7 linked regions of the Homo sapiens genome follow. The protein of the gene in region 6 purifies or fractionates together with the protein of the main gene of each other region. This does not show direct contact. Each region holds a gene or a part of one and is shown on either strand. Other genes may lie near its edges.

Region 1 (4,447 bases), on a different chromosome or scaffold from region 6:
TGTAAATATATAGGAGAATTATCTGGAAAGATGCCCAAGGAACCACGGGCAGCTTTAGCTTCTGGGGAGGAAGGCAGGATTTGAGAAAGATCCCATTTCATTGTACATCCTCTGACATTGTCTGAATAGTTTTACTTTTAAAACAAACTAGGTTTCAGTATTAAAAAGAAAAGAGCCTATCAACCAGAAAAACTGCACCAATGAAGCACTGATGAACTGAGAATGGGGAAAGAAATCAACGGCAGATCAGTTCTTCCTGGATGGGGGAGCTGCTGAAGGCAGGGATGGAGCCTTACTCAACTCTGTGTCCCCAGAGCCCCGTGCAGGGCCTGGTACCAAGTGGACCGTGGCAAATGCTTACTGAATGAATGAACGGATGGAAGGATGATTGGACAGGGGCATGAATGAAAGCACAGATGAATCAGCTGCTGATAAGCGTGAGGTAACTGGAATCCAATGCTGGGCTGATAGAATGCTGGCCCAGAGCTGCCAAATATCACTCAGGAAAGGTATGAACTCTCCTGGGCCTTCTGGGATGCTTACAGGAAGCTCATGGGCCTTCCACAATCTCGGGTCACGGACTACAGAGCTAAAATAACACAGAAATTTAGGCCTGTGGGTTCTAAGCCTGGTCGCAGAGTCGAGTCAGTCCTCTTCTGTAAGAAGGCTGGGAATGCAGACAGCATTCACTGCCCTGACACTCCCTCCCTGCCCCTTCCTGCCAAAGCCATATCTCAGTAAGCAAAGGAAGTGCTTCTTGAATTGTTTTGAGTAGGTTCCTCTGAAAACCCGAGAAAAGTCCTGCAGCCGCAGAGCCCAGTCCATGAAGACTCCAACATCCCTCTGTTCAACCCTGTAATGGTTCTCAGATGTCAGAAGCAGTCGAATCATTTGGAATAAAAAGACACCTGGACCTCTTTCCAGGAGCATCCCGCCAAATGGGTCAAGGGTGGAGCTCAGAATTTGCATTTTTAAAACAAGAGCCCAAGACCACGCTTGATAGTGGTGTCCAAACGCCCATTGCCCTAGGTTAAAAACTTGAAGGAATGAAAAAGTGAATGCCTTATCAAAATCACCCCTGTAATATTTCTTGTTAAAATTTGTACAAGGCCGGATGTGGTGGCTCACGCCTGTAATCCCAGCACTTAGGGAGGCCGAGGTGGGAGGATCACTTGAGGTGAGGAGTTCAAGACCAACCTGGCCAACATGGTGAAACCCCATCTCTACTAAAAATACAAAAATTAGCCAAGCCTGGTGGCACACACCTGTAGTCCCGGCTACTAGGGAGGCTGAGGCAGGAGAATCGCTTGAACCCGGGAGGTGGAGGTTGCAGTGAGCTGCCACTGCACTCCAGCCTGGGCAACAGAGCGAGACTCCATCTCAAAAAAAAAAAAATTGTACAAAACACAGGTGATCACCAAGGACAAAACAAAAAATCACCATAAATTCACCATCCTCAGAAAACTATGGTTCACAGTCTCACATATAAACTGCCAGACATGTTTATACATATATTTGTATTTTCCTAAAATAGGACCATACCGTATCTTTTTTTTTTTTTTTGAAACGGAGTTTCACTCTGTCACCCAGGCTGGAGTGCAGTGGCACGATCTCGGCTCACTGCAACCTCCACCCTCTGGGTTCAAGTGATTCTCCTTCCTCAGCCTCCTGAGTAGCTGGGACTACAGGCGCCTGCCACCACGCCTGGCTAATTTTTTGTATTTTTAGTAGAGATGGGGGTTTCACCATCTTGGCCAGGCTGGTCTTGAACTCCTGACCTCGTGATCCACCCGACTTGGCCTCCCAAAGTGCTGGGATTACAGGCGTTAGCCACCGCGCCCAGCCATCTTTTTCTAAGAACTGAACATCATGATCAACTTTTCAGGTCTAAGACACAGAACATAAGCTCTGCAGAGTTTGTTTTATTCATCTCTCTATCCCCAGAACCTAGCCCAATGCCCAGCATATAGTAGGTGCTCAATAAATCTTTGCTGCCTGACTGCCAGTAAGGTCCTGACACACCTCGCTCATCTTGGGCAGTTACCATGCTCAGTCAACCCCCTATGGCTGGACACTGACGTGGTTCCTCATTTTCAATTTTATAAACAATGACCTAATGAACATTATTTTCCTAGATTTTTGTACACTCTCTTAATTATTTCCTTAGCTTACTCTCCTATGAGTACAATTGATGACTCAAAGGCAATGACCATTTTTAAGGCCTTTGATACAATTTGCCAAATGCCCACTGGAGACACTGCAGTTAATTACACCCATGTGGATTCCTTGTGAGCTGACCATTCCTAGAGACTGCTGGCTCCAACCTGGTCTAGGCCAGCCCACATTCCCTTCAAGCTCACTCCTCCTCCCCTACCCGCAAAATCTTCTTACAGAAAAATTCAAACCTAAAACATAGGGAATTGTATAATGGACTCCCACGTACCCATTTCCCAACTTCAGCAATTACCAGCGTATGGCCAATCTTGTTTCATCCCTATCCCGCCACTGGAGTGGGGCCCAGAATCTGCATTCTTAAAACCAGCAGCCCATATATATGTATGTGTGTGTATACTTATATACACACACACACACACACATATATATATATGACAGCCCATATTATGTGTATACATATACATGACAAGCTGGTTTCATTCCAGTTATATCATTCAGGACCAGTTAAACAATTCAGTACCACAATACAAGATACAATTTGATATAGGAAAGTTTCTCCTTAGATTCTGCCCTAGGGGATCTCGTTCCTGAAGTTAGCTGCTGACGATAATGAAGAGAACGGCCAACATTTATTGAGCACTCACAATGTGGCAGGCCGTGTACTAAACTCTGTACACGCATCTCATTAATCCTCATAGCAAGGCTTAAGGTGGAGAGGATTCTTCCCACTTTACACATGCAGAAACTGAGGCTTAGCAGAGTTAAATGACTTTCCCAAGACCACAGGGCTGGGAAAGAGTGGAGGGGGACACTGGAGGCCGAGGTCCTCATGACCGCACTCCACCACCATCTGGCAGGAGCTCTTCCATAGTGGCCTCCAGGCCTCTTATCATCGATCATATACCTACTATACCCTGGGTACAGGGCTGGGTCCTGGGGACAAAGCAGTGGGCAAGGCAGAGTGCCATGTTATAGCTGGCGCAACAGCCAAGGGCAGCAGATGACTGGGAGAACAAGGTGATTTCAGAGAGTGGTCTATGCTAGGAAGAAAAAACAGGTTTGTCCTTAGGAGTGAGGGTTACTTTAGATAGGGTGACCAGTGAGGGCTTCTTGGAGACGGTGGCGTTTGAACTGAGACCTTAATGCCAAGAAACAACCCCCATAGCAAGACCTGGGCACAGAGGGACCTACAAAGGCAACGGCCCAGTGCCAGGGACTGAGCTTGGGAGCTGAGGAAATAAAAGCCAGCCCTTCCCCAGCTGTCCATTGCTTGATCTCATGCTTTTTTCTCTCCACTTGAGCCAGCCTGAGATAGCTTTCGCCACTAGCCCTGGAGAAGGCAAGGTTTTCTGTCCACACCCTCTCTCTGCTTGCACACTCTGGGCCTTCTTAGCTTGATCCTCTTTCCTGTCCAGCAGCTGAGGGTCCATCGTAGCTGCAGACATTTGTGGACGGCCGACGTCGGATGACATGTTACCATGACACAAAACGACAATGACCACGGCACCACACCAAGAATCATCTACCTCTATTACAACCAGACATTTGCACTCAAATAAGGAGGTGCTGCCGTATACTTATCCGTTGCTGGAGGCAGCATGAATGGGAACCAGACACAGCTGGAAAGCAATCGGGTAACAGAGCGCCAACCCTGTACATATCAGAGGCATTATTGCCACAGTGAAACACAGGAAACGACAGACACTTTCGGTGAGAAGACAATGACTTAGAAAAGCAGAGCAGAGTGGGGACAGATCACCTGAGGTCAGGAGTTCAAGACCAGCCTGGCCAACGTGGTGAAACCCTGTCTCAACTAAAAATACAGAAAATTAGCTGGGCATTGTGGCAGGCACCTGTAATCCCAGCTGCTCGGGAGACTGAGACAGGAGAATTGCTTGAACCCGGGAGGCTGAGGTTGCAGTGAGCCGAGACTGTGCCACTGCACTCCAGCCTGGGTGACACAGTAAGACTCCGTCTCAAAAAAAAAAAAAAAAAAGCACAGCAGAGCTGCAAGATGGACAACTGTGCTCCCATTACAACTGGAAAGTAAGAAAATCGTGGCTATGTAATAAGGTCAAGTACAAAAAGCAGACGGTAAACTGCAATCCATGCCTTGGAAAAAAAGAAAAGTGAGTTCTGCTTATGGACAAGGACTCACAGGGACACAGAAAAATGAGGTTCGATTTGTCGGGGGGGCAGGTCACAGAGGGATGTTTTCTTTGCCTTGGATCCCTGACAATGGGAGAGCAAACGCATTTCAGGAAATAATAAG
Region 2 (4,447 bases), on a different chromosome or scaffold from region 6:
TATGGGTGGTGACTTTTCAGGAAAGAACCAAGATTGTTCTAAAGGAATTTATGCATTAGCAGGTAACTGTCCTTTTTCCATAAAATTTGGAATATTCTTCTGTGGTATTATTCAGGTAACTTTGAAATAAGGCTTTAAAATATTGTTCAGCAACTATAATGCTATATTAACTGTCTATTATGTCAATTATAGGTTATTAGATTGCTTGAAAAGAACTATAAGATTATATATTCACAATAATTTTTTTTTTTTTTAAGAAGACAAGAACTGTAGGCTGGGTGTGGTGGTTCATGCCTGTAATCCCTGCACTTTGGGAGGCCAAGGTGGGTGGATCACTTGAGGTCAGGAGTTCGAGACCAGCCTGGCCAACATGGTGAAACTCCATCTCTACTAAAAATACAAAAAAAAACTTAGCCAGGCGTGGTGGCGGGCGCCTGTAATCCCAGCTACTCAGGAGGCTGAGGCAGAATTGTTTGATCATTTGAACCCAGGAAGCAGAGGTTGCAGTGAGCCAAGATCATGCCACTACACTTCAGCCTGGGCAACAGACCAAGACCCCATCTCAAAAAAAAAAAAAAGAACTGTAAGATTGATTTTGAGGGGGCAGAAATCTTGATTATATTTGTCAGTGCATTCTAGCACATTGTTGGAGATGAGTCTCAATTGTTGAATTTCTGAACTGTAAAAAGCTACTAGCTATGGTATAAGAATAACCTCATTATGACCACCTATAATTTTATGCTATTTATAAATATAAATATTAATATATATAAATAAAAGTAGCACCCTTTTATGGCATATGAAAGAGAATAGCTTCTATTAATACTATTTTTTGTAAAATTAATATTCACTTTCTCATTTTTATTATTGATACTGTTATCCTAGGTAAAGAGTAACTGATTCCTCTAGAAATAGAAAATTTGAGTTGCTTTTTAAAAATATTTGTTGGATCTCAATTTTCTGTATATGAAATTTTTGACAGCTCGAGATGTCTTTTTAATGCTAAAGAAGCCAAACTATAAGAAGCTAGAACTTCAAGTATATGCAACCTTCTTTGAAATTTATAGTGGAAAGGTAAGTGGGAACTTTTTTAATTTTAATTTTTTAAAATATATATATAACATAACATTTGCCATTTTAACCATTTTTAAGTTCAGTGGCATTAAATATATTCACATTGTTGTGCAGCGTTTACCACCATAATTTATGTGTATTTAGAACTTTTATATTAGAATTTATGTTATGAGATTTTTTTAAAAAGTCCTTTGAAACTTTTCAACTTCAGTGTTGAGAATTCTTATTCCAATTATTATTTTAATCTCTGAAATAATTCTTAAACTCTGGGTGACTCATTTTTATAGAACTGATATTTTAATTGCCACAGGATCTCGCTGTGTCACCCATGCTGGAGTGCAGTGGCATGATCACAGCTAACTGTAGCTTCAATCTCCTGAGCTCAAGTGAGCTTCCCGCCTCAGCTTTCCTAGTAGCTGCGACTATAGGCATGCACCACCATGCCCAGCTAATTTGTTTTATTTTTAGCAGAGACAAGGTCTCACTATGTTGCCCAGGCTGGTTTTGAACTCCTGAGCTCAAGCCATCCTCCTGCCTCAGCCTCCCAAAATGCTGGGATTACAGGCGTGAGCCATTGCACCTAGCCTGTTTTTTACTTTAAAGCTAGTTTTCTAATTTGAATATGGTTTTTCATAGGTGTTTGACTTGCTAAACAGGAAAACAAAATTAAGAGTTCTAGAAGATGGAAAACAGCAGGTTCAAGTGGTGGGATTACAGGAACGGGAGGTCAAATGTGTTGAAGATGTACTGAAACTCATTGACATAGGCAACAGTTGCAGGTAAATCTCATTTTGATTAAGAAAGGAAACATCAGTTTTAGAAACTTTGGGTACAGTATAACAAAATGAGGATGTTATCTATCAATACATCTTGGAAGTAAAAATCATTGTTCATAAAAACTTGTGTTACATGTAAATGTGAGTGACAATTATTATATTGATACTACATTACAAATATATTAGAAATATGCCGGATTAAATTGTATGAATCTGGTTCTATTTAAGTGTTATAACTCAGTGTCTCATCTGTATTTAAAAGATGAAAACTAGCTAAATCGATGTTTTTGCTGCTGTTGTTTTTAATGAAAATAATGTGGTTTGAACATGTAAATTGAAGTTTTTAATGTATCAAGATGTCCTTAATCACATTGTAGAACATCCGGTCAAACATCTGCAAATGCACATTCATCTCGGAGCCATGCAGTGTTTCAGATTATTCTTAGAAGGAAAGGAAAACTACATGGCAAATTTTCTCTCATTGATTTGGCTGGAAATGAAAGAGGAGCTGATACTTCCAGTGCGGACAGGCAAACTAGGCTTGAAGGTGCTGAAATTAATAAAAGCCTTTTAGCACTCAAGGTAAATAAAATGTATTTTATCATGAAAGGTCTTTTACTTTTGACTTTAATTTTCTTTACTCAGTTGCAAAATAGTAGTACTTGTTTTACCTAATAAAAAGAGGTTTTCAAAATTCAGATGCTTGTAATGTATAGTGTGATTTTATTATACCCAGATTTTTTCCTTGCACACATTCTTTATTCTTTTTAGATGGGATAAAGGATATGTGAGTTAGTAGGTCAGTTCTGGGGCTACATAGGTAAACTCCAGAGGTTTTTTTTTTTTTTGAGACTGTGTCTTGCTCTTTCGCCCAGGCTGGAGTGCAGTGACACAATCTCGGCTCACCGCAACCTCCACCTCCTGGGTTCAAGCCATTCTCCTGCCTCAGCCTCTCCAGGAGCTGGGATTACAGGCACGCACCACCACACCCAGCTAATTTTTGTATTTTTAGTAGATATGGGGTTTCACCATGTTGGCTAGGCTGGTCTTGAACTTCTGACCTCGTGATCTACCCACCTCAGCCTTCCAAAGTGCTGGGATTACAGGCGTGAGCCACCGCGCCCGGCCCAGAGGGTCTTAATTAGTCATATTTTCTAGGAGGAGGGCAACGAACCACTGAATTGAGCTAAGAAACAGTTTCTCAGAAAAATGTGGAATGGCTTTCAAAATGTTAGGCCAGGTTATTACATCTTTTCCTTGAGTAGAACACCAAAGGTTGGAAAGACTAAAATAAGGCATTCTGTGTTTTTTTCTTTTGGAGTGCCATGTTAAGAAATTAACTTTTTACAGTTATCCTACTGCCTGTCACTTTCAAACACTAGTCATAGTTTCCAGAAATATCTGTTGGAAGAATAAAGTAGGTTTTTTTGCTGTCATTTTTTATTTTCTTGAATTAGCATTTATGGGAACATCTACACTATGCTTTAAAACTGTTGGCCAGGCGCAGTGGCTCACGTCTGTAATCCCAGCACTTTGGGAGGCCGAGGCGGGTGGATCCCCTGAGGTCAGGAGTTCGATACCAGCCTGGTCAGCATGGTGAAACCCCATCTCTACTAAAAATAAAAAACAGCCAGTCGTGGTAGCAGGCGCCTGTTATCCCAGCTACTTGGGAGGCTGGGGTAGGAGAATCGCCTGAAGCCTGGAGACAAAGGTTGTAGTGAGCCAAGATTGCGCCACCACACCCCAGCCTGGGTGACAGAGCGAGACTTTGTCTCAAAAAAAAAATAAAACTGTTAGTAGAATTTTCAAAACTGATCAGACCCTTAAATGTTCAAGTTGTAGTAAGAGACCTTTTAAAATATGTTAATTAAGATTATCCTTTATAAGAAAGACTAATCTGTGAGACTTGTTTTCTTAATTTTCAGGAGTGCATCAGAGCCTTAGGTAGAAATAAACCTCATACTCCTTTCCGTGCAAGTAAACTCACTCAGGTGTTAAGAGATTCTTTCATAGGTGAAAACTCTCGTACCTGCATGGTAAGTTTATGTTTATTTTTTGTTTGTTTTATTTTAATCCTAAAGGAATAACTACACAATATTTATGGAAAATGTATTTGTTAGTGACAATTATTTGAATCCTTCTATTTTGAGTGATATGGTGATATTTAAGATGTGGTCCCTGCCACTCTGATAGAGAGGATTATATTGCAGTTATATAATTCCAGCATCTAGGTGTTATTGAGGGCTGGTCTTTCTTGATTTTCTTTTTCTTTTTCTTTTTCTCTTTCTCTTTCTTTCTTTTTGAGTATAGGTCACACTTTTCTTTATGGTCATATGTCTGGTAATTTGGGGTTATATCATGTGCATTATGAATGAACATAGAGACTGGATTCTGTTATGTTCTTCTGAAGATTATTGGTTTTTTGTATAGCAGAAATTTAACTAAACTTGCTCCAAACTCTTATCTCCCCTGGGCAACAACTGGAATTGAAAGCTTTGTTTAGTCCTTTCAGATTTAGCTATGTTGCTTATAGTTTGCCTTGTATAATATATGTCTAGGTCTGGAATCAGCTAGGGATTTGGGCAGTTTGTATATAA
Region 3 (4,447 bases), on a different chromosome or scaffold from region 6:
GCATGGTGGCACATGTCTATAGTCCTAGCTACTTAGGAAGCTGAGAAGGGAGGATCACATGAGCCCAGGAGGTTGACTGAAGCTACAGTGAGCCATGATCATGCCACTGCACTCTAGCCTGGGTAACAGAGTGAGACCCCATCTCAAAAACAAAAAATAATGTTTGATGCTTTGGGAGCCAATATAGTGTGGTGGGAAGACAGACTCAAATTCAAATCTTATACTACTTGTTATATATATTATCTAATCCTTGACTATGCCTCGTCTAAATAAAATAAAAATACTAACTTCATAAGCTTGTTAAAGATTAAATGCAATCACAGAGATATAAAAGATCATTGTTCTTGGCTTATCATGGGCATTTATTTAGCAAATATGTCTCCTCCTTTCCATATTTCAAAAGCTACTCCTTTTTAGAACCAAACCTTCCATTTTTTTGTTTCTTCTTTTTTTCAAAAAAGAGGCAAGGTCTCCTTTTGTCCCCCAGGCTGGAGTACAGAGGCGCAACTGTAGCTCACTTCAGCCTCCAACTCCTGTGCTCAGGTGATCCTCCCACCTCAGCCTCTCAAGTAGCTGGGACTACAGGAGTATGCCACCATGCCCAGGTAATTTTTTTTTAATTTTTTTTTGTAGAGACAGGGTTTCACTCTGTTGCCTGGACTGGCCTCAAGTGATCCTCGTATCATGGCCTCCCAAAGTGTTGGTGTTTCAGGCATAAGCCATAGCACCCGGTCCTGAAACCTACCCTTTACAAGAGGTAATGCCCCTAAAAGGGACCTAATTTTATTTTGACTGCTAACTTCCCATTTTTATTCTTTTTTTTTTTTTTTAAATGTAAAGACAGGGTCTCACTATGTTCCCCAGGCTGGCCTCAAACTCCTGAGCTCAAGCGATCCTCCCACCTCAGCCTCCCAAAGTGCTGAGAGTACAGGCATAAGCCACTGCACCCAGCCTTTGTTTTAAAATGCAAATAATGCTATCAGTCCCAAAGTGACATTATTGAGAAGGAGAATTATTTTAGGTATTAATCCCTAATTATTTTCTTCCTGGAACAGCCTAGAATCAAGAGTGAAGAAAAGCTAGGATTCTACAGATAAGCCCAGCTGCTATGAAATTATTTGAAAAGCCAAATATTTACTTATTTACAATGGCAAATTAGTTGGAATTATAAGAGGAATTTACTACACACTGTGCCATGGTTTGTTAGTATAAGTTAGAAACATGGTTAAAGCTATAGTTTCTTTTAAATTTTATAGCTAGGAGAACTGATCAGTAATGCTGGGAATGCAAGCTAAGAGCTTAGCTTTGATTCTATCAGGTAACACATAAAGCTTTCCCCAGCTAGCATGAACTCCCTAGGAAGCAGTACTTAGACTTTTAATTCTCAGATGGTCCAAAGAGGCCAGAATTGGGTCTAATTTCAAATTAAGAATGCAAAGTAAATTACAAAGCATTCTAAACAAATCTAGGGATAAACCCAGGGTTACCCTTGGTCAAGAATTATTAGGCTTAAGGATTAGCAAGGTTTTACTTCATATCTAACTCTTTCAAAATATATTGGCCAAGCGCAGTAGCTCATGCCTGTAATCCCAGCACTTTGGGAAGCCCAGGCAGGTGGATCACATGAGGTCAGGAGATCGAGACCAGCCTGGCTAACATGGTGAAACCCCGTCTCTACTAAAAATACAAAATTAGCCAGGTGTGGTGGCGCATGCCTGAAGTCCCAGCTACTTGGGAGGCTGAGGCAGGAGAATCGCTTGAACCCAGGAGGCAGAGGTTGCAGTGAGCCAAGATTGCGCCATAGCCTGGGTGACAGGACGAGAACTCCATCTCAAAAAAAATAAACAAACTGTCTAGAGGGTAGAGCACATTAGAGATGAGTATGAAACAACACAGCACTGCTTATATCCTAGTAACTGAAGCTGCATAATACATACATGTGAGTTTATTATGCTATTCTATTTGTAGGTGTACAGATTGAGTTTCCTTAATCCAAAAATCCAAATCCAAAACTTCCCGAGCACCAACATAACAAAGAAAAAACTCCCTGGAGTATATCGGATTTTGGATTTCTGGATTTAGAATGCTCAACTGGGTACAATGCAAATATTCCAAAACCCCCAAAATTCTGAGATCAGAAACAGTGGTTTCTGGTCCCAAGAATTTCGGATAAGGAATGTTCACCTTGTATTTAACATTTTCCATAAGGAAGCTTTTTAAAGCATGTGCCTCTGTATCAAGTATCTTTTCTAGTCACAGCTATATTGATGACCATAAACATTCTACTATTTTTTTTTTTTTGAGACAGAGTCTCGCTTTGTCACCCATGCTGGAGTGCAATGGTGTGATCTCGGCTCATCACAACCTCCACCTCCCGGGTTCAAGTGATTCTCCTGCCTCAGCCTCCTGAGTAGCTGGGATCACAGGTGCGCGCCACCACGCCCGGCTAATTTTTGTATTTTTAGTAAAGACGGGGTTTCACTGTGTTGGTCAGGCTGGTCTTGAACTCCTGACCTCGTGATCCGCCCGCCTCAGCCTCCCAAAGTGCTGGGATCACAGGCATGAGCCACCGTGCCTGGCCTAAACATTCTCGTTTTTAAATAAAAAAGTATACCACTTATTTAATATGACATACTATGTAAACCTGGTTGTCCCAGCCACTCACCTAGGGTATTCACTGCCACCTGATGGCAATAAACCCCACTTGTATGCAATGTTTTAAGAGGCTGATAACAAGATGACATTGCAAGTCTTAAAAATATAAAGTGGCAGTGATATCACACTTAAAAAAAATTATTAAGTAATAAAAAAAAACTGACAAGAAATTCCTTGGGTGGTAGAAAACACAATCGAGGTGGGACCAGGTTAAACAAAGGTAGAGTGAGAACAAACTCTCCCATCTTGGGTAAGTCATTCCAAGTTTCAGTTTCCTCATATGTAAGAGAGTTAGATTAGAACAGTGGTTCTCAGCAGGGAGCAATTTTGCCCCCAGGGGATATTTTGCAGGTGTGGAGAGATTTTTGGCTGCTACTTGAGGGCAGCTGCTATTGCCATCTAGTGGGTAGAGGACAAGGATGCCACTAAACAACCTACAATGCATAGAGAGCCCTCCCCATACCCAACAACAAAGAATAACCCAGCCCAAAATGTCAATAGTGCTGTGCTGTAAGATACCAGACCAGTAGTATCAGCACAACCCGAGAACTTGCTAGAAATACAGAATCTCAGGCCTTAGCTAGGACCTATGGACTCAATGTGTATTTTTAACAAATACCCAGGTGATTGATATGCATATTAAAGTTTAAGAAACACTACTGTACCTGGATTATATCCCCTGATATTCTGATTCAAGTCATCTAGGGGATGATCCAGGTCTTGGGATTTTCAAAGGTCCCCATGTGATTCTTACGTGCCACCCCCAAATTTGAGAACTCCTGTTCTACAGGATCACTAAAGTCTCTTCCATGCCAGTATTATATATACATACTATGTGGCAATATAAAAATATCTTACAAATCAATGCAGCGAACTGACTTTACTGTATTTAATAAAGTAAACAAGTAACTGGGCTAAACAAAGGACTATCAATTGTCTTACATTCATCAGAAACTACAATGACAGTTTATACAGACCTTACTTTCTAAACTAAGATGGAAAGCAAAGAACTACGGATAAGAGACCTAATTCATTCTTGTGAACTACACCAGCACCCACCCCATCTTCCAAACACTTACCGCAATTGCTTTACAACTCTTCCACCCTATATAAGTTAGCCTTCAAGGCCTAAGTGAGAGTCCACTGAAGAATGTGGAAGTGGTGATAAGACAAATGCCAACTCATAGTAAACACCAATATCCAAGTAAATACTAGATACTAATAAAAACTTTAGAGCATGAAACCCACAAAGAAAAGTTATAAAAACATACAGTATCCCTTACCTGGGTATTCTGGAAGTAATGCTTCCAGAGAGGCCTAATTCTATCTTGACCACCAACATCCCATACTGTGAAACAAATGTTCTTATATTCTACTGTTTCCACATTAAAACCTACAAAGAAAAACAAAAATGACCGCTGTGCAGCGTCATTAAGAAAATAAAACCTTTTATTGTGGAATTTTCTTAGAATAGTGTTTTTAAAGTACTTCTTTTTATTTTTAAAAAATATATTTAAGCCTAAACATCAACAGAGACAAGGCCTCATTATGTTATGCAGGCTGGTCTTGAACTCCTGGGCTCAAGCAATCCACCCGCCTCGGCCTCCCAAAGTGCTGGGATTACAGGCATGAGCCACCACACCCGGCCTGTTTTAAAAGTACTTCTAAGATAATCAACATGCTTAACAAAAAGACAATCTCAAAACTAGACTGTATATATTTCACTTTACAACATATCATGATATAAAGTCATCTGTAAACTTTCTTACCAATGGTAGGAATGGTGGTGACT
Region 4 (4,447 bases), on a different chromosome or scaffold from region 6:
CTCACGCCTGTAACCCCAGCACTTGGGGAGGCTGAGGTGGGCAGGTCACCTGAGGTCAGGAGTTCGAGACCATCTTGGCCAACATGGTGAAACCCCATCTACTAAGAATACAAAAATTAGCCGGGCATGGTGGCGGGCGCCTGTAATCCCAGCTACTCGGGAGGCTGAGGCAGGAGAATCGCTTGAACCCGGGAGGTGGAGGTTGCAGTGAGCCGAGATCACGGCAACAGAGCTAGACTCTGTCTCAAAAAAAAGAAGCAGCACAGTGAGCTGGCCAGGGTCACATAGGAAGAGAGTAACAGTCCGGCTAGAACCAGACTCCCACCTCGGGAAGGAGGCCTCCTGTCCCTCTACCACCTTCCCTCTGGGGTGGCCACCTGTCCTCCCTGAGGTCCCACTACCAGCACCCCTCCCCATACTGCAGGCTTGCTGGAGCTGGGAGTGCAGAGTGGTGGCGGCTTCCTGGTCTGCCTGAGCCTGGGAGCAGGTGGGATGCACAGGCTCTGTGGCATTCATCTCCTTGTCTCACGCTGCGTCCACAGCTCCTGAGCCCGCTGAACCTGGAGCAGGCCGCGTACGCACGAGACGCCCTCGCCAAGGCTGTGTACAGCCGCACTTTTACCTGGCTCGTCGGGAAGATCAACAGGTCGCTGGCCTCCAAGGTGAGGGCTCGGTCCACACTGCTCCCAAGGCAGAAGGGAGGGCCGTCGGCGAGGCGGGGGGTGCTGCAGGGTGGGGCTGGCACGCGCAGGGGGCCCACGCCTTCGGTTGAATGACTGCCCTAGGACGTGGAGAGCCCCAGCTGGCGGAGCACCACGGTTCTCGGGCTCCTGGATATTTATGGCTTTGAAGTGTTTCAGCATAACAGGTCGGTGCCATCTTTCCCCCGTCTCTCCTCCCGGTCTCCTGTCCTGCTCCCTCTCTTCTGTCCTCCAGCCTCTCATTCCTGCCCTGTGACTCCCCAGCCAGCCGGGGACTGTCTCTGTGTTTCTCACCTCCTGTGCTCAGGGGCGTCGTCCAGCTTTTCCCCTCTCCTGGTCCTGTGTCCCCACTGAGCCACTGTGGGCTCTTCTCCTTCCTTACAGCTTTGAGCAGTTCTGCATCAATTACTGCAACGAGAAGCTGCAGCAGCTCTTCATCGAGCTCACGCTCAAGTCGGAGCAGGAGGAGTACGAGGCAGAGGGCATCGCGGTGTGTGCTAGCCTGGGGGCACTCTCCGTGGGCCACGGGGAGCCTGGGTATCGGGGCCCCTGGGAGAGGGTGCCAGGACCCCACGGTGATCCCTTCCTTCCCTTCTGCCCCTCAGTGGGAGCCCGTCCAGTATTTCAACAACAAAATCATCTGTGATCTGGTGGAGGAGAAGTTTAAGGGCATCATCTCGATTTTGGTGAGTCCTCTGCGCCTCCAAGGCCTGGTGCTGGAGGCTGGGTGGGAGGATGTCCCCCTTCTCCGTTCTCTCCAGGCTGGTCCACGGAGGGCCAGAGTTTGGGGCTGAGTAGAGACAGGGCAGAGCTGTGAATGGAGGATGGAGGGAGGTGCCGCCCCAGTTGGAAGCTCTCTGTGGAGACTCCCTGTGATCTGCCCCTCCCCTGTGTCTGTGCCTCCCAGCACGGTGACCCCAATCCTCTGTGCGCTCTGACCTGTCCCCCATACGTCCTTCCCCCTGTGCCACACCCCCCAGGATGAGGAGTGTCTGCGCCCCGGGGAGGCCACAGACCTGACCTTCCTGGAGAAGCTGGAGGATACTGTCAAGCACCATCCACACTTCCTGACGTGAGTGGGGCTGCGGGGCTGCTGGGGGCAAGGGCTCACTTGCAGCAGAGCCTGCGGAGTGCAGGAGTCCCTCCGCCATCACAAAACACCAGCCACAAGGAGGTGACCAGGGACGGTGCTGAGTTAAGGACCCCTCACATGTGTCCAGAAACTAAGAAGCTTAGCCAGGCATGCTGACACGCCTGGAGTCCCATCTATGCAGAAGGCTGGGGCAAGAGCATCACTTGAGCCCTGGAGTTTTGAGGTTGCAGTGAGCTAGGATCAACCCACTGCACTCCAGCCTGGGTGACAAGAGCGAGACTCCGTCTCAAAAAAAAAAAAAAAGGGAAAAAAATAAATAATGAATTTTTTAAAAAAGAGAAAGAAGGCCAGGTGCAGTGGCTCACGCCTGTAATCCTAGCACTTTGGGAGGCTGAGGCGGGTGGATCACCTTAGGTTAGGAGTTCAAAACGAGCCTGGGCAACATGGTGAAACCCAGTCTCTACTAAAAATGCAAAAATTCGCTGGGTGTGGTGGCAGGTGCCTATAATCCCAGCTACTCGGGAGGCTGAGGCGGGAGAATCGCTCGAACCCGGGAGGTGCAGGTTGCAGTGAGCCGAGATCGCACCACTGCCCTCCAGCCTGAGCGACAGAGTGAGACTTCAACCCCAAAAAAAAAAACAAAAAACAAGACACTAGTAGCCTGGCTTCCTCCTTCTTCTTGTTTGAGAATGAAACTTGCTAAGATTTTTCATCTTCCTTGTTTGGAAATTGATTTTTATTGAAGGAATCCTCTGAAGTGGGGAGAGGTAGAAACAGGAACAAGCGCCTCTGTCCAGCGCGGTCTGATGCATGCTGTGCATGTCGTCGCTTCACCTGCAGCTGCTCCTTGAGGGGTTCTTGGTGTTTTCTCACTGAGACTCCAAGAGGCGAAGTCATTTCCCCAAAATTAGCTCTCATCTGGGTTGCCGAGCTGGGGTCAGTGCCAGGGCTGTTGAATGCCAAAGCCATGAGTATTTTTTGCATAATAATATATTGAAAATTTGTTTCTGGATGGGCGTGGTGGCTCACGCCTGTCATCCCGACACTGTGGGAGGCCTAGGTGGGCAGAGATCACCTGAGGTCAGGAATTCAAGACCAGCCTGGCCAACATGGTGAAACCCTATCTCTATTAAAACTACAAAAATTAGTCAGGCGTGGTAGTGGGCACCTATAATTCCAGCTACTTGGGAGCTAGGAGAATTGCTTGAACCTGGGGGGCGGAGCTTGCAGTGAGCTGAGATGGTGCCACTGCACTCCAGCCTGGATGACAGAGTGAGACTCCGTCTCAAAAAAAAAAAAAAGACTTGTTTCTAGGAGTCTCTCTGAATCTATTCGGGTTTAGGGGCTGCCTGATTCATTAAATAATAAATACTAAAAACTTGTTCCTGATTATAAAAATAATATTGCTTATTACAGCAAAGTTGGAATGTGCGCAAAAGCCACCTGTGATCCCGTCGCCCAAAGGCCATGGCTGTTAACTGTGTGAGGCATTTCCCTCCTGCCTTTTTCTATGCATTTTTTTTCGTAGTCGAGAACTTGTGTATAAGGCTCAGGGTAAATATCCTGCACATTTTCCCGTATCATCAAACAACATTTTCCTCAGAACACTTCCTGGAGCGGTTCTGACCCACAGATACTCCCCTCTCTCACCCAGCCCTTCGGGGCCCCTGGCCAGCCTCCCAGGTTTCTGCTGGAATCACAAGGCTGCCACAAACATCTCCGTGCCTTCAATCTTTGTCCGTGTCTCTGGTTAGCTGCTTGAAATAGTTCTTAAAAGCAAATGGGTGAAAGGGTATAAACACGCCTAAGACTTAAGTGCTCTCTTGGGGCAGCAGATTCCATTCTGAAAAGTAGTGCGCAGCTCACCACCCCTTCTGAGCAGAGCCCGCAGCGGCCGAAGCAACGAGAGTTTCCCTCCCTGCAGCGTACCCTGGCCGTCAGGAGGCCCAGGTCCCGGTCCTGGCACTGTGTGGCCCTGGCCAAGGCCATCTACCTCTCTGAGCCTCCATGGTCCGCTCTGATCAGGGAGGCCACTGGCCCTGCCTGGCCTGCCTCAGTGACCCAGCCCTGGGGGTGCACCTGCTCTTTTTTTTTTGGAGTGTAGTGGCACCATCTCGGCTCACTGCAACCTCTGCCTCCCAGGTTCAAGCGATTCTCCTTTGTCAGCCTCCTGAGTAGCTGGGACTACAGGCGCCCACCACCACGCCTGGCTAATTTTTGTATTTTTGGTAGAGATGGGGTTTCACCATATTGACCAAGCTGGTCTCGAAGTACTGACTTTGTGATCTACCCACCTCGGCCTCCCCAACTGCTGGGATTACAGCCGTGAGCCACTGTGCCCGGCCTGGGGTGCACCTGGGCAGCTGGTTCCTGCTCCTGAGGCCCTTTCAGCAGGCAGAGGGCTTGGCTCAGGCCGGCAGCCATCTGCAGCTTCCTCCCTGTCACCCCCAGGCACAAGCTGGCTGACCAGCGGACCAGGAAATCTCTGGGCCGAGGGGAATTCCGCCTTCTGCACTATGCGGGGGAGGTGACCTACAGCGTGACCGGTGAGGATCCTGGGGCTGTGTCCCCACAGGGGCCTGCGGGGAGGCTCTGTCTCACCTCACGTCGGTTCTCCCCTCCCAGGGTTTCTGGACAAAAACAATGACCTTCT
Region 5 (4,447 bases), on a different chromosome or scaffold from region 6:
TAAAGTTTTTAAGACATCACTCTCAGGGGCTAGCAAATGCCTTTGTTATTGATTTTCTCAGTAATTTCCACTTTTCCTTCTTAGAGTTGGGTGAGTAGATAGCCCCTAAAGTTCTTCCTGTAAGCCAGTGCTGTCCAATTTCAGCTTTTTATTAAGGCTGGAGTAATTATTTTCCTGCTTCTCTTCTTAATAATTGTGCTAGGGTTCTGTAAATACTGACTAAGGAAAGCTGACTCTAGTGTGTAGAGTTTACGTTTAACATTTTTTATTTCTAAAGTTAAATTTGTCTTTCAAACTTGAAAGGAGATTCATTCAGATGGATTATTCTTTAAGGTATTATTTCACCTGATGTCCCTTTTTGTTTGATTCATGAACATGACCATAAATATTTCACAAACTGTAATGAACAGAGAGGTGGCATGTGAATGCAATTGGGAAATTATGTGATAGTACATTTTTATTCATTTTTGTTTGTTGTTGTTTGTTTGTAGAGATGAGATCTCACTATGTTGCTCAGGCTGATCTTGAATTCCTGAGCTCAAGCAATCCTCCTGCCCTAGCCTCCCAAAGTGCTGAGATTGCAAGCATGAGCCACCGTGCCTGGCTGATAGTGCATTTTTAGCCAACAAAACGATTATATTCTAAGCTATCATTCCGAGCCAAAATAACCTCACAGTCATTATAAACTCTTCTCTGGACCTCATCCTTTGGGTCATTTCAGCCAAAAACCATGAGAATGTGGCACATATTAGGAAAAGTATTCAAAAAAACAAAGTAGTAATCTATCAATGGTTCAGAACTATAATGTGCCTATGCTTGGAATGCTCAGTATCATTCTGTATCTTACAAAATTAGAATAGCTGAAAAAATGGGGGGCAATTCAGGGGCTATTCTCAGGATAGCACTAGGGATACGGAAGTAAGTAAAACAGGCAAAAATCTGCATTCTCTTGGAGCTTATGTTATAGTGGAATAAGACAATAGGTAAGTAAAATATATAGTATGTCACATAGTGATAAGTGCTTTGGGGGAAAAATAAAGCAAGGTAGGGAGTTAGGGAGTTAGAGAGTGCTGGTGGTGACAGTGGCGGTGGCCATTAGGGCTGGTTTACAGTTTTGGATAGGTAGCAGGGGAAACAATACTGGCAAAGTGATACTTGAGCCAAAAACCAAAAGTGAAATGAGAATAAGTCATGTGGGAGTCACCGAGAACAGATTTCCAGGCCTAGGGGTGGGACTGTGCATGTTTGGGAAACAACAGAGAGGCTTGTATTGCTGAAGTGGGAGGAGTGGGCCAGGGAGAACATAGGAGGAGTGGGCCAGGGAGAACAGTAGGAGTTCAGATGGATGTTATAAGAGGGGACAGGCAGTATGTTTTAAGGATTTGGGCTCTTCGGCTTGGTGGGAAGCCATTGGAAGGTTTTGATCCGAAGACTGACATTTTTTCTTTTTATGGAAACATCACTTTGAACTACTTTGTTGAACATAAAATGTAGTGGGACAATTAAAATAGTTGAGCAGTGAATGGACTTTCTTGTGATGATGGAATAAAAGTATAAATGCCTCTTATTGAGAAAAATGAAAGGGGTTATGATCTATGTTCAAAATCTTGAAGAGATTTGGTTAGTTTGAATACAGGCTTGGTTGACAATACTAGAATTTCTTGAACGACTTTTTTGTTCTTAAAGCCAGAAAGAGACTCCTTTAACATAAATAAAAGTACTGTTTTACAAAGCAGATGATAACTTAGGAACTTGTACTGCCCCATGGTATCTCAGTTGAAAAATGAACTGCTTTAAGTAGAATTTAGAGAAATAATGCCCTAGGGATAGATCCATTGTAGATTAACAAAGTAAGTTATGGCTGTTGGTGGGTACCTCAGTTAACTTTGAAATTAATACGCTATCCTACAGTCTGTTTGTTGGCAGACTCAAATAAAGGATTACATGAGCCACTGGTCTGATTCCGAATACCATTTCTTGTTTTTATCATCTTTGTCATCAAATTGATAGTCTTGTAAGTTCAGAATCTGGGATGCTTTCAATTTGATTTTTTTTCTTTTTTTCTTCTTTTTAGTTCAAAAGAAATAGAAGACTTTCAGTCAACCGAGTCTGTCAGTAGCCAGCAGATGAACCTCAGTATTGGTGATGACAGCACTGGTAGCTGGTCCAATTTAAGTTTTGAAGATGAACACCAAGATGAAAGCAGCAGTTTTCATCATCTAAGTGAAAGGTAACTACACTTTTGCATATAATTGTGTAGTTTAGGTCCTCAGATCTTAGAAGTGAGCTATAAATTTACATTATTATTTAAAAATTCTAAATTTGAAAATATGCTATTACTTTCAAAATGTATTTTATTATTCACAATGTATTTCTAATTGTTTTTAACACTTATTTAATACAGTAAGTAGCCCAGCTAATTTTATTGGGGTGTGCCAATAGTTGATTTGAAAAATATTGCATACATTTAATTTTATGCCTTTTAAGCTTCTCCCAAACTTTTTATGAACTTCTGAGGAAAAATTTTTTTTTTCACTTTAAAAAGGGTACTTTTTTTTCTTTAAAGAACAAGAAAAAGGACAGGTATCTGTAAAAGGCATCAAAGTAGCCCTGTACTTTTCCTGACATTAGTTAAAATAGTATCTTTTTGGTGGGGCGAGGGTCCCTGCTTGTCCTGCTGTTAGGAACAAAATGACCTGGAAGACTTATGCTTGAATGATTGAAAATACGTAAGTCAAAGCCATTATAAAAATGTGATTTTGTATAGCACAAGGCACTTACCTCATATATAACTTTTCTTAGTTAACTTTGTTCATAACAGTGGTGTTTGAAATATTTTATTAATTATGAGACAGTTGTTTCTTATAGTCTTAACCTCTACCTAAAGGCATTTCTGACTAACCTATAAAATTCTATAAACTCTTTATCCACATTAAGTGATAACTGGAAATAATAGATACCATTTGTAGCAGAGTCTTGAGGGAGGAAAGGGTTCTTAGCATATTGCTGGTTTCAGGCATGTGTGGAAAGGACCTGTGGACCATCAGTTGAACTTAGCCCCTGGAAATGGCAAACTAGGTGTGGGAGGGAAGGCAACTCTTGGAAAAGGGAATGAGGTAGCATAAGGAAAGGAAATGGCTTTTCACCTGATAGAACACTTCATCTCGAAGAGTTTTGTTCGATGCTTGGATTAACCTGGAAATATTAATATTTTTGTAAAGTATATTTTGTCATAGTTTATTATGGTGCTATATAAACCACCAATATTTCTTAAAATCTAGGTCCAAAAAGACAGTGTTTAAAACTGGTAGAAGCAAGTGGGGGCAATGTCACAAATCATGATTTGGCCCTTTTCTATAACTTTATCTAGAAAAGGATACTAACATTTAGTTTCTTCTCTCATTTTGAGAAACACAGGCTTCTATGATTTCAGTGGGGTTGACAGTGTTGCCTAGGAAATCCTGGCGTTAAAATGGGAGATTGAGGTGTGGGTAGAGGCTTTAAGCATTAAGAGGACTTGTAGTCAGTTGAACAACTCTGTGCTGAATATTATCTAATTTGATGAGAAAAAGGAGTCGTCTTACCGGTTTCTGTCCTTGGTTCTGTCCTCCTTAGCATTATTTATTAATGATGTGGAATACTCATTTGTGGATGATTCAACACAGGCTGAAAAAAGAATCTCATTAACAGAACAAAGGTTAAAAAGACCAAATCAAGCTGAGGTTAAAATAATTATGTTTAACATGGATAAATGCATTTAGGCTCAGAAAATTAATGATTAATATTTGAACTTAAGTGGGGAGCAAACCTGGCTTGATGGCATTTTGTCAGAAAAAGACCTGTGTTTCCATTGACCAAAGTTGTAATGTGACTTAATGTAATGCTGCGTGGCATTAAGGTTCTGGCACAGAGAAAAAGCGGGGCTCATCCAGGATTGGTGGTGTGCTCGTTGCATATACAGTGTCCAGGGTCTCACCTCCAGAGATGAAGATTTATGAAGTCAGTGAAGGGTCCTGAGAATCTGCATGCTTGATAAGCATCACAGATGATTTCAGTGCAGGTGATTCAGAGACCTCACTTGAAAATATATTGATTTACAAGATATGTTGCATCTGTTGATGACAATTGATATCTATACTGTTCTTTTCTGCTACAGAGATCAAGGTAGGAGATAAAGACTTCGGCGATTTGGGCTGGGCGCGGTGATTCACGCCTGTAATCCCAGAACTCTGGGAAGCCAATGGGGGTGGGGGTGGATCACTTGAGGTCAGGAGTTCAAGACCAGCCTGGGCAACATGGTGAAACCCCGTCTCTACCAAAAATACAAAAATTAGCCAGGCGTGGTGGCAGGCACCTGTAATCCCAGCTACTTGGGAGGCTAAGGCAGGAGAATTGCTTGAACCTGGGAGGCAGAGATTGCAGTGAGCTGAGATTGTGCCACTGTACT
Region 6 (4,447 bases):
AGACCAGCCTGGCCAACATGGTGAAACCCCGTCTCTACTAAAAATACAAAAAATAGCTGGGAGTGGTGGTACACACCTGTAATCCCCACGACTTGGGAGACTGAGGCAGGAGAATTACTTGAACATGGGAGGTGGAGACTGCAGTGAGCCGAGATTGCACCACTGCACTCCAGCCTGGGCAACAGAGTGAGACTCTGCCTCAAAAACAAACAAACGAAAATAATAAAAACAACAACAACGAGAACAACAACAAAAAAAACCCATCAGATCTTGAGATTTATTCATTACCACGCGAACAGTATGGGGAAAACTGCCCCATGATTCAATTATCTCCACCTGGCCCTGCCCTTGACACATGGGGATTATTACAATTCAAGGTGAAATTTGGGTGGGGACACAGTCAAACCATATCAGCCCCAGTGTCTATTGTTGCCTGTTTACTTTTTGTTTTTTTGACACAGAGTTTTGCTCTGTTGCCCAGGCTGGAGTGCAGTTGTGCAATCTCAGCTCACTGCAACCTCTGCCTCCCAGGTTCAAGCAATTCTCCTGCCTCAGCCTCCTTAGTAGCTGGGATTACAGGCATGCACCACCGTGCCTGGCTAATTTTTGTATTTGCAGTAGAGACGGGGTTTCACCATGTTGGCCAGGCTGGTCTCGAGCTCCCGACCTCAAGTGATCCACCTGCCTTGGCCTCCCAAAGTGCTGGGATTACAGGCGTGAGCCACCATGCCCGGCCTGTTGTTTCCTTCTTGATGTCTATGTGTTCACAATGTTTAGCTCCCTTTTAGAAGAGAGAACATGTGGTATTGGTTTTCTGTTCCAGCATTAATTTGATTAGGATGCCAATTAAAAACATTTATGTAGTTAGGGTTTCTTTTTCTTTGTCTGGCTACTTCTGTTTGCTGTTTTTTTAAAAAATTATTTTCCTTAATAGAAGAAAGGGAGATTCTGTGCTCCGATTTCACTCCACCAGCTTTACCAATTTATAATCTTTACAGTTCCCATTTCCTACCTGGTCCCTGGCAAATGAAGCCTAGTCTGGCTCCAAGCACATGGGTTGAAGTATCTTCTGGAATACTCAGATAAACATGATGATTCAGGTGCTCTAAAAAAATCACACAACTAGCTTTCCCTAGAAGAGGAAGCCCTAAGGACTCAAAGTGTCTTCTGGCATCAGTGTAGTTTCCTTTCTTTTTTAGCATAAAACATTAATCCTAATGTACTAACCTTCAAGGTTAATAAAATATATCCCCCATAAGGTTGTCAGAAAATGCAGAGTGCCCTCTAAAATTTGAATTATAGATACAGTATAATAAATTGTTTTTTTAAAGTATAAGTAGGTCCCATGCAATATTTGGGTCAAGCTTTTACTACACAATGGTTTGCTGTTTATCTGAAATTCAAATTTAACTGGGTTTCCTGTCTGGTTTTTCCTTACTAAACCTGGCAGCCCTACTCTATCACCACCATCTTATGAGAATGTTTTCTGGGTCTACTGGATACCTCTCCTTTAGTATTTTCCTGATATCACTGATATCCTCATCTCTGTTACTAGTGGATTCATTGCTATGTCCTTTCCTTAGCCAATCCTATAGTATGACTTGACTCTTAAGTTTTAGATAATAAATATTTGCAGATGGTAGAACATTGTACAGTAAATAAGCATCATTAACATTCATTCCCAATTATTTAGCACTCAGCCAAAGAGCAGTAATAAAGCACATAAGATAGCCTTTGAGTGACCAAAATAGATGTCATAAATTCCATGCCCAAAATGCTCATTTTCTTTCTTCGTAGATGTTCATATCAGGCTTTTGCTCAAAATATTTTAAATCCTAAATACTGACTACTTAGCAGACCATGGCAGAAGAGAAACAGCAGATTAGGGGAACTGCTTGAGTTTAGGAACAAGGACAACATATGCATATCACAGCAGGACAGGGAAAGGAGATAGGAGAATGAGAAACAGACCCTATGAAGTTCTGGAACCACTGGGTGCAGAGTACAGAGCTCTGGCCGTTTACGTGGTCTCTGAAGGCACCACTGTGGCAACATTCCGTGCCATGGAGCCACAAGCTAGCATTCAGCTCGAGGGTGTATTGGGACAATATTGGTATTAGTAACAGATACCTGAATAAACTCACTAAAGCACAGGGAATGTATCGATTCATGTAATTTAAACCCAGGTTAGGTGGCTTCATGAACTGTTGAATTCAGGTGCTCAAATAGAGTTGTTTGTAATCTCTCTGTCTCTCTCTTTTGTCTCTATCCCTTTATCTCTATCTATCTGGTCCACTTTGCTCTGTGTTGTATTTCTTTCTAGGCAGATTCTTCCTTTATGATGGCAAGATTGGCTAGTAGTAGCTCAAGACACATATATACATATATATATACATATATATTATATATATATAAATATATATATTATATATATTTTAAGACGGAGTTTCACTCTCGTTGCCTAGGCTGGAGTGCAATGGCACGATCTCAGCTCACTGCAACCTCCACCTCCCAGGTTCAAGCGATTCTCCTGCCTCAGCCTCTTGAGTAGCTGGGATTACAGGCACCTGCTACCACACCTGGCTAATTTTTGTATTTTTAGTAGAGATGGGTTTTCACTGTTGGCCAGTGTGGTCTCAAACTCCTGACCTCAAGTGATCCTCCTGCCTCAGCATCCCAAAGTGCTGGGATTACAGATATGAGCCACCACACCCTGATGTATGTCTGTAGTGCCTAGAAGTACCTAACAGGCAGGTAGTAGACATTCATTAATATTTTTTATATGAATGAATGACTACAAGTAGGGTGGGCCCTGAACAATTTGTGATAAAGAGGGTGCACTTTGTTTCAGTGCATTTCTAGGGTTTTTGTTTGCTGGTTGAAACAATAACCCCACTGGAGAGAGAAAAAGCAGGGAGTGAGGCAGAGTAGGGGATGGAGAGCTTTTCTCACTCTCAGGAGTGGCAGGAGGGTTCTGGGTTGGCTGTGATTGTTTCACCCTCATATTTACCTCTGTCATCTAGATCAGAGGCTGGAGTCACTTTCTGGAGCCTTTGAACTCTGACAGTATGGAAATCACCAAGCGAGCTAAAGATATTCAATGACACCTTCATGCCTTTAGAACTTCTGTTATGTTATTACTGTCTGGGATTGGTTTAATAATTTGTGCTGTCATCAGAATTTCCAAAGTAATTGCTAATTTTTCTTTCAGGCTCAGGCTGCACGAAGAAAAGGTTATTAAAGATAGACGTCATCATCTCAAGACCTACCCAAACTGTTTTGTCGCAAAAGAACTGATTGACTGGCTGATTGAACACAAAGAGGCTTCTGACAGAGAGACGGCAATTAAACTCATGCAGAAATTAGCAGACCGGGGCATTATTCACCATGGTGAGTGCGGTGGCGAGTCAAGGTGACTTGAGAGAAATGGAAGGACTAGATCTTTTCATGAACATACCCACTTAAGAAAGAAAACATTTTGCTTTATTTTATCTCCAGTGTACCTCTCCCTGATTGCATTTTCTTCCTGCCTCTAAGAGGCATTTGGGTTCTTTCTTTTTTTTTTTTTTTTTTTGTATTTTTAGTAGAGACCGGGTTTCACCCTGTTGGTCAGGCTGGTCTCGAACTCCTGACTTTGGGTGATCTGCCCGCCTCAGCCCCCCAAAGTGCTGGGATTACAGGCGTGAGCCACTGTGTCCAGCTGGCATTTGGGTTATTTCTATGTACTGCTTTATACCTGTCTGTATATACATCTTTAAGGAATGCATCATATTGTTTTAAAAGTTTTCTATCATTATAGAAGTGCATATTTATGCTTTTGCAACTTGATCAACACACTGTGAGCTTCATCCACATTGATAGTATATGTCTTATTTGTTATTTTTGCTGTTGTATAATACATATGTATAATTATGCCACTATACATTTTTCAGTGGGCATTTACATGGTTTCCAAGTTTTTGCTGTTACTCTCAGTGGGTTCAATGAAGATTCACCAACATGTCTTCTTGAAATCTCTCATCCTGGCCTCGACCTTTGCACATGCCATCGTTCTCTTGGAATACCCTTTCGCCTCATTTTTTGCCCAATTTCGATTCATTCTTCAGGTCTCCACTTACATGAAAACTCTTCAGGGAAGCTTTCTTTTTCAAAAGCTGTGTCACTGTGTTCCTGGGGCACTGGGTACTCTTCCTTTGGGCTCCCATTGCACTCTCTCCTTACCTCTGTAGCCTTATCACACCATATTTCAATTACAGTTGACATTTCTCCTTACCTCACTAGATTTCACATTCTTTGAGGCTGATGCATGCCCCAATATGCTTTAGAAGAATTTGTGGATTGCATGATGAATTGAATTGTGTGAACTTCCTAAATATGATGATGATGATGATGATGATGATGACTATGGTGATGGTGATGGTGATAATAATAGCTAAAAATACTGAGGA
Region 7 (4,447 bases), on a different chromosome or scaffold from region 6:
TGAGATTTTATGATTCTATATTTACCTTTGCCTCTGCTTTTTCCTTCAGTGATAAGAGTGCAGGGATTATGTAGGGGTTGAGATGGGGAATGAATTGGGCTAGTGGTTTAGGAGGTGATGGGCATTAAGTGGGAGTTGAAAACATGTTGTGGTTGATTCTAAGAGGGGCAATTGCTATTGGCTTCTGCTTTTTTTGTAGTTTTTTTTTTCAATACTAAATACATGTTCTTAATTGTAATTATTTTTCAAATTAGGGGAAAAAAGGAAGAAAAAGATAAACCCAAAGATAAAAATAATTTTTGAAAGTCACCTTCTCATAGCTTCCTCCAAACAGACAATCCCTTAATTCTTAGAAATGGGCCAATATATAAATCATCAAAAAGATGATTAAGAATAGGCTTTGAAAAGAATTTTGGAGGAGATAAGGTATTTTTCACGGGATTATGTTATTTATTGGCTCATAAGTTTCCTGAAAGATAGAATTTATTTTTGGTGATAAGATTGAATTTAAGGTAGATATTTTATGTCCCTTGGAGCTAGACAGTCTTTTTTATCTTTTGTGTTCCCAGCCCCAAATATACCACCTAACCTATACTAGGTACTCAAAAATTGTTTCCTGAGCTTAACACAGTACTCATTCTTGGTGGAAATAACAGCAAGATAATCCCGGTGTAAAAGGAGTAGACTTTTTGTGAATAAGGGAATTCTTTTTCAGTCACTCTCCAAAATGTTCTCTTTCAGAAAGTGTACAAAAAAATTTTTTTTTTTGCCTAGTATATTGGAATCACAAGCACTGACTTCATATTTCAAAGTTGAAAGAAATGAGATAGATGTCCCACACAGCTGTAAAATGCCAAAAATAAGTAGTGCTGACATAAATTAAAGGCCAGTGCTCTGAAAAGCCACAGAAAAGCTTCAGATCAAGGGTGGCTATAATTGAAAGGGCCCAAATAAGTATTTAAAACCACCCCTCCTGGGACTGCTAAGATTTCTGAATTTCAAATTGGCATTTTATGTTTGACAAGGTGACATTATATAAGAAATGTATTGTAAAACACTGCTGTATGATAGGAAAATGATTGAATGTAAATATTTCAAGATGTAGACCACTGTTCAAATGTTATCATAAATCTTTGCCATTGTTTTAGGGGATAACTCTTCATGCATATATGAGCTGAATTGATACAGCCAGCTCTTCGAGGGGAAATCATCAGCACATTTCTGCCTCTCTGCTACCATAGATCTGATTTAACCACAAAAATATCCTATTAGGTTTTGCTATTATTATCATATGTTTATTATTATGTAAGTGGGGAAACCATTTTTTGAAAATATACATCTGGCATTTGCCCTACTCATTGAGTGGTCTGAAATGTCACTGTTAGGTGAAATTAGAATAGCCTGGGACAGTTTGCACTCTCAAACCTTGAAAAGAAAAAAGCTTGAGTTATAAGATTAACTATCTTTCCATTCTTTGTAGGTTTGGAAGGTTTGCAGTTGCTGCTCTTCAGTCCAAAGTAGAACAGTATGAGCGTGAAACCAATCGCCTCAAGAAAGCCCTGGAACGAAGTGATAAGTATATAGAGGAACTAGAATCTCAAGTTGCACAGCTAAAAAATTCAAGTGAAGAGAAAGAAGCTATGAATTCCATTTGCCAGACAGCACTTTCTGCAGATGGCAAAGGGAGCAAAGGCAGTGAGGAGGATGTGGTGTCAAAGAATCAAGGCGATAGTGCCAGAAAGCAGCCTGGCTCATCCACCTCCAGTTCTTCTCACCTAGCGAAGCCTTCCAGCAGCAGACTGTGTGACACCAGTTCTGCAAGGCAGGAAAGTACCAGCAAAGCAGACCTTAACTGTTCTAAGAACAAAGACCTATATCAAGAACAGGTAGAAGTAATGTTAGATGTGACAGATACAAGTATGGATACTTATTTGGAAAGAGAATGGGGGAATAAACCAAGTGACTGTGTACCCTACAAAGATGAAGAACTTTATGATCTTCCAGCTCCTTGTACTCCTTTGTCCCTTAGTTGCCTTCAGCTCAGTACTCCAGAAAATAGAGAGAGCTCTGTGGTCCAAGCAGGAGGTTCCAAAAAGCACTCAAACCATCTCAGAAAATTGGTGTTTGATGATTTTTGTGATTCTTCAAATGTTTCTAATAAAGATTCTTCAGAAGATGATATAAGTAGAAGTGAAAATGAAAAGAAATCAGAATGTTTTTCTTCCCCAAAGACAGGATTTTGGGACTGTTGTTCCACAAGCTATGCCCAAAACTTAGATTTTGAAAGTTCAGAGGGGAACACGATAGCAAATTCTGTTGGAGAAATATCTTCAAAATTGAGTGAGAAATCAGGCTTATGTTTATCCAAAAGGTTGAATTCTATTCGCTCTTTTGAAATGAACCGGACAAGAACATCCAGTGAAGCATCGATGGATGCTGCTTACCTTGACAAAATCTCTGAGTTGGATTCAATGATGTCAGAGTCAGACAACAGCAAGAGCCCTTGTAATAACGGTTTTAAGTCACTGGATTTGGATGGGTTATCAAAGTCATCTCAAGGCAGTGAATTTCTTGAGGAACCTGATAAGTTGGAAGAAAAAACTGAGCTAAACCTTTCCAAAGGTTCTCTAACTAATGATCAGTTAGAAAATGGAAGTGAATGGAAACCCACTTCTTTTTTTCTCCTCTCTCCATCTGACCAAGAAATGAATGAAGATTTTTCACTCCATTCCAGTTCTTGTCCAGTAACTAATGAAATCAAACCCCCAAGCTGCTTGTTTCAGACAGAGTTTTCCCAGGGCATTTTGTTAAGCAGTTCACATCGACTATTTGAAGATCAAAGATTTGGGTCATCTTTGTTTAAGATGTCCTCAGAGATGCACAGTCTTCATAACCACCTTCAGTCTCCTTGGTCTACTTCCTTTGTGCCTGAAAAGAGGAATAAAAATGTGAATCAATCAACAAAAAGAAAAATCCAGAGCAGCCTTTCCAGTGCCAGCCCATCAAAAGCAACTAAAAGTTGACTCATTAGAAAGGTGTCATTTGTGGTTTTGTCCTGAGAGAAATAGAAAAGTTGTTAAAGTTACCTTTTTTCCTCATAAAAGTTCTATACAAATTGGAATTGATAATCTTTAGTCAAGTATCAAGTCAGGATGGTGGATTAACCTGTACCCAGAATACTTATTGTTCATTTTGAAAAGACTTTGTTCTTTTCATTTTTATTTGGGAGTCTTTGTGACCAGAGAAGTTAGGGAGGAGGTTATTTTTGTGTTTTGGGGTTGGTTGGTTGGTTGGTTTTGTTTTTGGTTTTGTTTTTTTACTGAATTTGATATGTATCTCGGTTGGATATACATTGTTTTTTTAAAAAATGTTATTTAACTGTTAGATACAGTGGCCTGTTGATAAGCCCCACTTGTCTTCAGAACTTGGATTTCTTAAATAAAACTTTTAGTGTTGTCTATACACTGCTCAATAAGACACTTGAGTTTAAGCTTTTCCCAGGGTGGAAATTATTTTACCTGTCCCTTTTTATTTATGTTTAGTGATGGCCTAGTTTTTCTGCAGGGCCATGATGGAGAAATAGCACTCTAGCCTTAGTCCAATATTGATTTACTTTCTTTTTTTAGGTTTTATGTATATGTTTGCATTTTTTAGCATTGTGTTTTGTCCAGTTTTGTGAAAATGTTCTGCTAGTATGAAAGAAAACATTTTCTATATGAAGACATTTGTTTTATGTTAGGTAGCTTACATTTTCTCCTCTGCGTGTGTGTGTATGTGTGTAAAATCAGAAATTTAGCATACTATGGAAAGAAGGCATGGAGCACTTGGGTTTAGAGGAACCTAAAACATCATAGCTTCATTGTTCCAGATGTAACAGGTTTGAAAGAGCTCATCGCCAAGTTCTTGATCCACTTGCATTCCAGGGGAGTTTTCTTTTGAGTAGTATGTTTCTTGTTTGCATGTTCCTGTTCTTTGTGGAAACTATGCATGGTAGCATTTTTGCTTGCTGTGTTTTCCATACTTAAGAAAAAGAGGTTTCAGTTGGCTGATAGAATATCTTTTATGTAGGACAAAACTTTTCTGTGAAGAGTGTTGAGGGGGTGAAGATAGGTAAGAGGTAAGCACAATTTTTAATTTAGGCTCTGAAAAAGTGTATTGTTCTAAACGTATTTGGTATGCCTATATAGGTCTTTAAAAATGGGTATGTATGCTGTTTAATGTGCACTGAACATTTTACATTAATATTGTACTGTTTTACATTAATACTGCATGCTTTTCTATGTGAATTGAATAAAGAATGTCATAAGCACTGTGTTCCTTGATGTCGATGATGATTCTTTGTCTCGTATATTGAATTAGCCTATAAAGACCAGGAAAAACTACTTTTTTTTTTTTTTGAGACGGAGTCTCAATCTTGTCGCCTAGGCTGGAGTGCAGTGGCGCGATC

The links.
Region 1: the proteins of DEPTOR (region 6) and ERGIC1 purify together in Homo sapiens (affinity purification with mass spectrometry, with the first as the bait; one large-scale study listed by BioGRID). This does not show direct contact.
Region 2: the proteins of DEPTOR (region 6) and KIF2A purify together in Homo sapiens (affinity purification with mass spectrometry, with the first as the bait; one large-scale study listed by BioGRID). This does not show direct contact.
Region 3: the proteins of DEPTOR (region 6) and ARF4 purify together in Homo sapiens (affinity purification with mass spectrometry, with the first as the bait; one large-scale study listed by BioGRID). This does not show direct contact.
Region 4: the proteins of DEPTOR (region 6) and MYO1C purify together in Homo sapiens (affinity purification with mass spectrometry, with the first as the bait; one large-scale study listed by BioGRID). This does not show direct contact.
Region 5: the proteins of DEPTOR (region 6) and AKAP11 purify together in Homo sapiens (affinity purification with mass spectrometry, with the first as the bait; one large-scale study listed by BioGRID). This does not show direct contact.
Region 7: the proteins of DEPTOR (region 6) and OBI1 purify together in Homo sapiens (affinity purification with mass spectrometry, with the first as the bait; one large-scale study listed by BioGRID). This does not show direct contact.

Annotation. Positions count from the first base shown.
Region 1 is NC_000005.10:172,927,304-172,931,750, reverse strand, and holds part of ERGIC1 (endoplasmic reticulum-Golgi intermediate compartment protein 1), read right to left. Parts: intron 1-4,447. UniProt on the Homo sapiens protein: Possible role in transport between endoplasmic reticulum and Golgi.
Region 2 is NC_000005.10:62,361,468-62,365,914, forward strand, and holds part of KIF2A (kinesin-like protein KIF2A), read left to right. Parts: coding exon 1-62; intron 63-982; coding exon 983-1,074; intron 1,075-1,710; coding exon 1,711-1,853; intron 1,854-2,227; coding exon 2,228-2,432; intron 2,433-3,775; coding exon 3,776-3,886; intron 3,887-4,447. UniProt on the Homo sapiens protein: Plus end-directed microtubule-dependent motor required for normal brain development. May regulate microtubule dynamics during axonal growth. Required for normal progression through mitosis. Required for normal congress of chromosomes at the metaphase plate.
Region 3 is NC_000003.12:57,579,960-57,584,406, forward strand, and holds part of ARF4 (ADP-ribosylation factor 4), read right to left. Parts: coding exon 4,425-4,447; intron 4,049-4,424; coding exon 3,939-4,048; intron 1-3,938.
Region 4 is NC_000017.11:1,474,831-1,479,277, reverse strand, and holds part of MYO1C (unconventional myosin-Ic), read left to right. Parts: intron 1-542; coding exon 543-662; intron 663-785; coding exon 786-868; intron 869-1,085; coding exon 1,086-1,191; intron 1,192-1,306; coding exon 1,307-1,387; intron 1,388-1,681; coding exon 1,682-1,773; intron 1,774-4,245; coding exon 4,246-4,340; intron 4,341-4,419; coding exon 4,420-4,447.
Region 5 is NC_000013.11:42,306,380-42,310,826, forward strand, and holds part of AKAP11 (A-kinase anchor protein 11), read left to right. Parts: intron 1-2,074; coding exon 2,075-2,230; intron 2,231-4,447. UniProt on the Homo sapiens protein: Binds to type II regulatory subunits of protein kinase A and anchors/targets them.
Region 6 is NC_000008.11:119,925,189-119,929,635, forward strand, and holds part of DEPTOR (DEP domain-containing mTOR-interacting protein), read left to right. Parts: intron 1-3,211; coding exon 3,212-3,390; intron 3,391-4,447. UniProt on the Homo sapiens protein: Negative regulator of the mTORC1 and mTORC2 complexes: inhibits the protein kinase activity of MTOR, thereby inactivating both complexes. DEPTOR inhibits mTORC1 and mTORC2 to induce autophagy.
Region 7 is NC_000013.11:78,614,156-78,618,602, reverse strand, and holds the end of OBI1 (ORC ubiquitin ligase 1), read left to right. Parts: intron 1-1,277; exon of another isoform or gene 1,278-1,480; coding exon 1,481-3,023; 3' UTR 3,024-4,314; downstream 4,315-4,447. UniProt on the Homo sapiens protein: E3 ubiquitin ligase essential for DNA replication origin activation during S phase.